Regions from separate parts of the Homo sapiens genome. Here region 1 is linked to region 2. Evidence: fine-mapped expression QTL. A gene starts in region 2. The other region holds a variant in brackets. All regions are shown on one strand. Distances are from middle to middle. Region 1 overlaps VAX2 (ventral anterior homeobox 2). Region 2 holds the start of CLEC4F (C-type lectin domain family 4 member F).

The links. PIP is the estimated chance that this variant, and not a neighbour inherited with it, causes the effect.
Region 1: its variant is the best candidate, but not a certain one, in a credible set for the expression of CLEC4F in skeletal muscle (FUSION, PIP 0.60).

The regions. Positions count from the first base shown.
Region 1 is chr2:70,931,473-70,935,797 of GRCh38, reverse strand. VAX2 (ventral anterior homeobox 2) reads right to left here. Exons shown (of 3, transcript NM_012476.3): 3 at 2,352-3,031. The coding sequence ends at 2,594. Among named protein-coding and RNA genes, the nearest start is that of ATP6V1B1, 2.3 kb to the left of the region's middle. The variant G/TTTTTTG (reference allele first, on the strand shown) is at 1,736.
Region 2 is chr2:70,818,279-70,822,662 of GRCh38, reverse strand. It overlaps CLEC4F (C-type lectin domain family 4 member F), which reads left to right and starts at 2,064. Exons shown (of 7, transcript NM_173535.3): 1 at 2,064-2,200; 2 at 2,772-2,888; 3 at 3,219-3,308. The coding sequence starts at 2,140.

The DNA.
Region 1 (4,325 bases), 110 kb before region 2:
ACAGTAAACAAGGAAGCCTGGGGCTCTGGCTCCCAAGCTTTCCCCACACCAAGCTGTGCAGGTCTGGGAGGGGCCCCCGTCACCTGAGAGCTGGAGGATGTGGAGGGAGAAGGGAAGAGGGGAGGGCTGGCTTTTTCCTTCTTCTGTGCTAGGCGGTTCCTCCCCGCCAACCCCAAACTGTATGAATTCAATTCCTCCCCTGGACCATCAGGTGCTGTCAACATTCCCACACTCGTCCCTCACCACAGCTCTTTCTGGTCTCTCCACACCCAACTTCTGGCAGGCTGCCCTTTCTTCACTGTTCTCGCAACCTGACCTTACCCTGCACTCCTTGCCCTGACTATACCTGGATACTTCTGCCCCCTGACAATTCCATCGTCATCTTTTTGAACATCTGTAGAGAATTATTTCCTGGTCAGCCTCAGTGCCATCTCCTACATGAAGCCTTCTCTGGATTCTCTAGCAGCCAAGATTTACTACACATCTAGCCTCTTTCCTAAGTCATGCCCTTTAGGAGAGGCCTCTCTTGTCCCTGCCACTGGGCTGTGAGCCCCCAAAAGCTGAGCCTGTGTCTCAACCCACAGACCTGGGTCTCCTGAAGCCTGTCTGTCTCATACTATTGAGAGTTCTTGAGAATGAGGGCTGGTCTCTCTCCATCTGATCATAGAACCGTGTCTCATCTTCTCACATTCACCTCCAGATTTCTATACAGCAGGCCTGCCCTGACCTTTCCAGCCCAGGTCAGAAAGTAAAATGGAGGTCCCTGTATTGTATAACTAAATACCTGGAGTTATAAATCAAACTATGTGCACAGCCTGGCCTGGGTTCCACCCAAGACCTCACCACTGCTTCCCAAGAACTCTCTCTTCATGTCATGAAACTAAGAGTTGTGGTTTCTCCTGGTGAGTGGAGTGTGGTACAGTTCCTCTGGGCAAGGCAGGGTGGACCCTGGGTGGTAGCTGGACCTGCCCAACCCAAGGTCTTCTAGTCACCCCCATGCCTCATTCTAGGCTCAGGATTTCTGCATTTCTAAGCTCCTCCCCAAACCATACCACTGAGCAGAGGGAACGGCAGAAGTACATTTGCCTAGGGATCACTGTCCCCAAGCACCCACTCCAGGTGACTCAGGACAGCCAATTTGAAACCAAAGCAGCAGCTACTATGTTTCTCAGAGCAGACTGGAGGAGACTGTGCTTGTTATTTCTCTTCACAGAGTCAAAATCTTACCCCGCATCCTCCCTCCTGAGGACCCATTTCAGGTCTCTGGTTCCTAATGCCCATCCTTTCAAAGAACTCTCCTGTGGAGGGCGGGGGTGGGTGTGACCATCAAGGAGCAGCATGAGGAAGATCTCTGTGGTGATGGAACAGGTCTGCATCTGGATTGCAGCAGTGAGTCCATGAATCTATAAAATGACATGGCACTATGCACACACACGGTACCAATGCCAATTTCCTAGTTTTGATATTGTACTATAGTTAGGGAAGATGAAGCCTATCTGTCTCATACTATTGAGTTCCTGCCAATGGAAGGAACTTCTCTGTCCTATCTCTGCAGCTTCCTGTAAATCTATAATTACTGCAAAATAAAAAGTTAAATAAAAGAGTCTTGAGCAAGACTCTTATTTAACTTTAAAAAAATTTATATTGTTTGAGCAATATGAAATATATATAATATGTATGTGTGTGTGTGTGTGTGTGTGTGTGTATATATATATATATATTTTTTTTTTTTTTT[G/TTTTTTG]AGTCAGAGTCTCCCTCTGTTGTCAGGCTGAAATGCAGAGGCATGATCTTGGCTCACTGCAGCCTCCACCTCCTGGGTTCAAGCGATTCTCCTGCTTCAGCCTCCTGAGTGGCTGAGATTACAGGCGCCCGCCACCATGCCCAGCTAATTTTTGTATTTTGAGTAGAGATGGAGTTTCCCCATGTTGGCCAGGCTGTGTATAGATATTTTAAAGGGTTTCATGTTGCAGTTTGTGATGGGTAGGCCGTCTCTAAACATCTGGACTCTTGCTTGTGTTTAGCTTTGATGCTCTCTCTCCCTCTCTCTCAACCTGGTCTCCCCTTTCACCATTCACCCTCTTCAAGGTGACAATGTTTCCCTCTCTCAAGTATTTTTATGTTTGAAAGAGAGCTTGTAAAGGGCAACATTTAACCAAAGAATTCGTGTTGGTGCCATGGGCTTCTATTGAGTGGGAATCAGGTGCCTGCTGACCGACACATGTGAGTCCCCTGACCCCCAGAATCCCAGTTTCTGCCCTCTCCCATCTGAGGTCCCTCTGACTCTAAGCCCATTTTCCCTTCCAGTGACAAGAGGGATAGAAGGGATTGAGGGGTAAGTAGTTGTGCTGTGGGCACCATTTCCCTTCTTGTCATTGTTTTCCTTTTATTTCAGTGAGAGACACACACACTCACACTGCACTCACGCACACAAGCTGCGGGACCAAGGCCATTTGGTCACGAGTCTCTGAGCTGGGGGGCAGGTGGGGAAGAGTGTGTGGCTGCAGCCCCTCCTCTCCGGGGCCTGCTCAGTGCTGTCCGCTGGGGCACAGGAGACTGGGAAGGTGCTGTGCTCGGGACTCAGTGTCACAGGGTGGGAGTCTTAAGTGTTAGCTTTCTTGCAGCTGCTGGCGCTGCCCACTTTCCGTTCTAGCCAGCTGTATGGCTCGAAGGCCGAGGAACCCAGTTCGTAGCCGGCAGGCAGATCCAGGAGCGGGGCCGAGGAAAAGCAGACAGCTGGCAGAGGGGGCGGCAGTGGGGGGGACGCTGAGGCCGAGGACAGCGGGTTGAGGCGTGGGGAGGAGTTCCTGGGGTCACCTAAGGAGGTGCCCCTGTGGCTGGCAGGTAGGCCTGGCAGGCTAGGGGTCAGCGCCAGGAGGCTAGGGGCCCTGGGCACAGAGAGCAGCCGGCCCTGCTCCAGCAGCCGCAGAATGTTGGAGGTGGCAAAGGCCTCGGAGGCTGAGGAGGACGCCCGCTTCTCCAGGTCTCTGCTCTGGTCTTTCTTCTGCTTGGTGCGGCGGTTCTGGAACCAGACCTTCACCTTGGGGTGGGGGAGGGGGTGTCAAGGAGGGAGATGGGACAGGCAAAGCAAAGTGGGGGCAGGTGGGAGGAGGAAAGGAGAGGAAGGGCATGGGGTTGGGGCAGGTGGTGGATGGGGGTGGGGGTGGGGTGTGAGGGTGGAGCAAGAGGGAAAGAAGAGCAGATTGTTGTTAAGGTCTCCCCACAACCATCCTGCTGTAGGCGAACTGATTAGGGACTCTGGTCCCCCAAATTATGGAGGCCCCTCTACTACTAAACTGACTCTGGCCTAGGATGGAGGAATGGATCGACAGACAGAGAATGGAGTTTGGGAGTACAACTGATGTTCTCCTCTTGGCCCACATGCCCTTGGCTCAAAGTCAAGTTCACAGCCTCAGCCACCATTTATGTGCTGGTAATTCCAACTCTACCTCAGGCCCAGAGATCTGAACTGAGATCCAGGCCATGTATCCACCTGCCTGCTAGACATCTCCCCATGGATATCTCAAAAAACACCCCAAACCCCACATGTGCAGCTCTGTCCTCCAAACAGAGGCTTCCCACGCTCCCTCTTCCATCATGGCTGCCTCCACTCACTCATGCAGGAGCCTGTCTCCCAGCTGCCTAGAACAGACCCTCCTCTCTCCCTTTGTTCTCTCTGACCTGGACCGTGGCATTGTCTCTACAGCAGCACCTCTCGACCCTGGCTGCCCATGAGAACCTGGGGAGCTTTAAGCCCCTAACTCACTTCTCACCTTGGACCAATAAACTCAGAACGGGGGAACCTGGGACCCAGACTTTAGTAGTTTTTAAAGCTCACCAGGTGATTCCAAGGTGAAGAAGCCAGTGTTTTAAAGGTGTCTCTGCCCCAGGTCTAAACTGTAACATCTAGAGGGCTGGGGCAAGAGAAAAAATGGAAGCCTCTGGCTCATGGCCCACCCTGGCTCTGACCCACACGTGTGTGGCTGCCCCAGCCTGTTCACAGTCTGCAAATAGCCCCCCATTGGCCGCTTCTTGGGCCTGGAGTGCTGAATAATGTCTGTGGTCTGCCCTTGGGAAGACTGACCCTGGAGAGGCCCAGGCAGGTGCCGGATGTGGCTCAGGGCCATTTGGCGGGGAATTCTGAAACTGGACACTTTGTTGGCAGGGATGGGTGGTCTCAAAGGTGGGCACAGGCTTCTGGCAGGCGAGACCCCTTGGCTTTGCAGAGTCCTCATTCCGTAGGGAGGGGCATGACCAGAGGAGGGGCCAGATGCCTGTCTGGGGATGGTGAGGTCTCTGCATCCATGCTGGCCGCCACGCTGCCTTTGGAGGGA
Region 2 (4,384 bases):
ACAAGAAGGAACCAAAGAACAGGAATCTGCTGGTAACCCCAGCACTGGCTTTTAGAGGGGTTCCTTGACCAGCCATGGGAATATTGGTTCTGTTCAGCTGGTAACCCCTGTGGCAGGGACAGGGACATCACGTTTGCACAGCTCCATGGCACTGTCCACTGGGATGCCTCATGCCTTCTCTTCTAATGCTAGGCCCACCCAGCAGCAGGAACCCCTGAAGCAGTATCTGTTCCTCCTGGAAGGGATAGGGCTCATTGAAAGCCACACATTGGCCCCAGCCTGCTCCATCAGATTCTTTGGAGTTAGTCTTGAGAACCTGGTCACCTCAGGAGGCATGGATCCAATCAGCTAAAGTTGGGGCCTGCTTGGTATTTTCTGACACCACTTCTGACACCAAATGTGTGCTTTTTCCTGACACCAGCCGATTCTCTGACACCCGCTGGGCATCCAACAATTCAAACAGATTCTAACACTAACTTCCAGAGTTAGCACAGATCTCACAGGGTAAGGCCTCAGTCCCACAAGACTGCCCCCCTTCAGATGCTAGCTACAAGTGAGGTAGTGACCCCACTTCTGCCTGGTCAACTACAAATTTGGGGGTTCTGGCTAGGCAAGGTGGCTCATGCCTGTAGTCCCAGCACTTTGGGAGGCTGAGGTGGGAGGATCACTTGAAGCCAGGAGTTCCAGACCAGCCTGGGGTATAAAAAGAGATCCCATCTCTACAAAAAAATAAAAATAAAAAATTAGCCAGGTATGTTGGCACACACCTGTAGTCCCAGTTATGCTGGGGTTATGCTGGATGTGACAGAGGCTGGGATGTTGGGGCTGAGAACTGAGGATCACTTGTGTCCAGGAGTTCAAGGCTGCATTGACTTATGATCGTACCACTGCACTCCAGCCTGAGTGACAGAGGGAGACCCTGTCTCAAACAAAAAATTAGGGGGTTTCTGCAACAACCTCTCAGTTTTCATAATTCACTAGAACAATTCACAGAACTCAGAAAAACACTGTACTTCCTATTCTTTTATTGTAAAGGACAAAAACAGCCTGATGAAGAGGTACACAGGGCAAGGCCCAGTGGGGTCCCAAGTGCAGGAGACTCTGTCTCTGTGGAGTCAGGGCATGACACCCTCCTGGCATGTGGATCACCAATCCCTAAGCTCCTTGAATCTCATTTTTTAAGAGTCGTTATAGCCCAGACCCCAGGCCATCTCCCATACCTGGAGGTCTGGGAGTAGGGAATGGGAGTGGGTGGCTGAAAGTCCCAGTCTTCCAAAGTCTAATCCCATGTTTGGTCTTTCTGGGACCAGCCTCCAGCCTGAAATTATCTAAGGGTCCACCCTGTGTCACCTCATTAGCATAAACCCAAGTGTAGTCCTAAGGGGCTTATTATGAATAACAAAAAACACTCCTGTCACCCAGGAAACTCTAAGCGTTTTAGGAGTTCTGTGTCAGGAACTGAGATGAAGACCAGATATATTTTTTACAGAGTTGTCCCTTGGTATCTGCAGGGGATTTGTTTCAGGACTCCCATGGGTACCAAAGTCCACAGATGCTCAAGTCCCTTGTACAAAATCATGTAGTATTTTTATATAACCTCCGCACATCCTCCTGTATACTATAATTCAGTTGTGAGTCCCCAAGTGGCTGGTCACCCCGCTTCCTCCTTTGACCTGCAAATATCGGCCGCACTGACCTGGCCCCTCTTTTACCTGACTCCTTTTACTTAAGAGGTTCTGAGGCTAGAATTAAAGGTCAGCCATAGTCATAAGGATGTTTTCTGTGCAAAGCTGAGACCCCCTTCCTAGGTGCCAGTCCCAGCCCCCAGAGAAGAAGAGGTGTGTTTGGGGTTATGCTGGATGCGGCAGAGGCTGGGATGATGGGGCTGAGAACTGACGGGAAGGTGCTAATGGGAAGAGGAAGAAAATAGGGCAGATGGGTATCTGGGAGCCTCTAGGGGAGGGGCCCACTGGGGCGGGTTTCTGCAGAGTCAGGCAGGGAGGGAGGAAGAGCTGGGAGGGTGGTCAGGAGCATATAAGTGTGGGTGTCTCAGCTTTGCTTCCACTGCCATTGGTCCACGGGACGGCCCTTCCAGGAGCCAGTGGCTGGGAGCAGTGCTGGAGGATCAAGGAAGCAGAGATGGACGGTGAGGCAGTCCGCTTCTGCACAGATAACCAGTGTGTCTCCCTGCACCCCCAAGGTGAGAAAACTGGGGCCCCAGCTCTTGCCCAGTGAGGGAGTAGCCTGCCTGTCCTTTGGCCCTCTGCCATAAGGCAGCTTATTGCTGTCTTATTGCTCTCCCCAGACCCTTGTCCTTGGGGATGCAGACCTGGCAAGAGAAAGGGGATGAACTTTGAATTCAGATGGTCCTGGCTTGGAATCCCGGCTCTGCACACTGAGCTGGTCCTGTGAGGCCTCCCTCCCTTCCTTTCTTCTTTCATTCAAACTACACTTTTGTTGCTCTGTGCTCTGTGCCAGGTTCTGTGCCCTGTGCACCACCAAAGCCTCCTTGAGATTTGGAGATCGGTGGTCTCGGTCTCAGAGCTCCTCAGCTCTGTGTTGCTACCATATCCACATCTAGCTCTGGTGAACAGCCCAAAGTGTTTTGTCTTCCTTCTCCATAACCACCTGCATGATAAGCATGGCAGGAGTTATCATCCCCATTAGACAACCCAGGAAACAGAATCAGAGAGGCTGTGTCTCAGCCTGCACAGCACCCTCTTACCTTGCACAGCACCCTCTCACCTTGGACACTGCCTTCTCCCCTGCAGAGGTGGACTCTGTGGCAATGGCTCCTGCAGCCCCCAAGATACCGAGGCTCGTTCAGGCTACCCCGGCATTTATGGCTGTGACCTTGGTCTTCTCTCTTGTGACTCTCTTTGTAGTGGGTAAGCCCCCAGGTGACCCAAATCTCACTAACTTTCTCTCCTTTCAGCACAAAGTCCCCAGGGGCCCCAGATGCACACTCTCTGGGCCTCTCTGCTCCCAGAAAGATCATTCCACCTCCAGCTCCAGGCCCAAGCCACAGCTTCCCTGGGAACAGATAAAGGCCACTGTCCAAGGGGGAGCCTCCCAAGAACTGAGGTTCATGAGGGAAACCCTGGGAGGGTCTTTGCTGCTATCTCCCCGGTTCTGGAACTCTACCTCTGTGTGGGACAGCGTATCCTCCCAGGCTCAGGGCTGGGGATTTGCTGACCTGGAAAAATGGAATGTCTCAGTTCAACAGCAGACAAGACCTGTTCCGAAGCCTGTGCAAGCCGTAATTCTGGGAGACAACATTACTGGGCATTTACCTTTTGAACCCAACAGTGAGTAGCCACAGTGGGGGTGGGGTGCAGAGGGAACTGGGGCCTTCAGATGCTCAGACCCTAGGATGAGCTTCTCTCCTGGTACCCTCTGACCACTGAATGGGCTCCACCATCCTCACAGAAAGAGATAATTTTTTAAAAACACAGTTTTATTGAGGTCTAATGGTGTATATATTTAAAGCATACAATCTGTTAAGTTTTGACATATGTGTGTGCCCCTGAAACCATCACCACAATCATCATCACATAGTCATCCTCCTCACCCCAAAGTTTCCTTGTGGCTCTTTGTAATTCCTTCCTCTCCCTTCCTCTCCTCATCCCTGGGCAGCCACAGATCTACTTGCTGTAACTATAGATTAGTTTGCTTTTTCTAGAGTTTTATAGATAAGAGATCATAGAGTATGTACTCTTTGTTCTTTGCTAGTCATGTGATTTGCAAATATTTTTCTCTCAGTCTGTGACTTGTCTTGTCATTCTCCTAACAAGATTTTAATTTTGATAGTCTAATTTATCATTTTATTTCTGTTATGGATTATTCTCATGATCTCGTATGTGAGAAATCTGCCTAATCCAAGGCTACAAAGATGTTCTCCTTTGTTTCTGGAAATTGTACAGTTTTTAGTTTTAGTTTTTGTTTTTGTTTTTTGACGGAGTCTCGCTCTGTCACCCAGGCTGGAGTGCAGTGGCGTGATCTCGGCTCACTGCAAGCTCTGCCTCCCAGGTTCATGCCATTCTCCTGCCTCAGCCTCTGGAGTAGCTAGGACTACAGGCGCCCGCCACCACGCCTGGCTAATTTTTTGTATTTTTAGTAGAGACGGAGTTTCACCGTGTTAGCCAGGATGGTCTCGATCCCCTGACCTCGTGATCTGCCCACCTCAGCCTCCCAAAGTGCTGGGATTACAGGCGTGAGCCACCATGCCCAGCCCGGTTTTTAGTTTTACATTTAGGTCTCTGCCTCATTTGAGTTAATTATTGTATAATGGTGTGAAATTGATTGTTCCAGCACCATTTGTTGAAAAAGTTATCTTTCTCCGTGAATTGCCTTTGCACCTTTGTTGAAATTCGATTGTCCATAT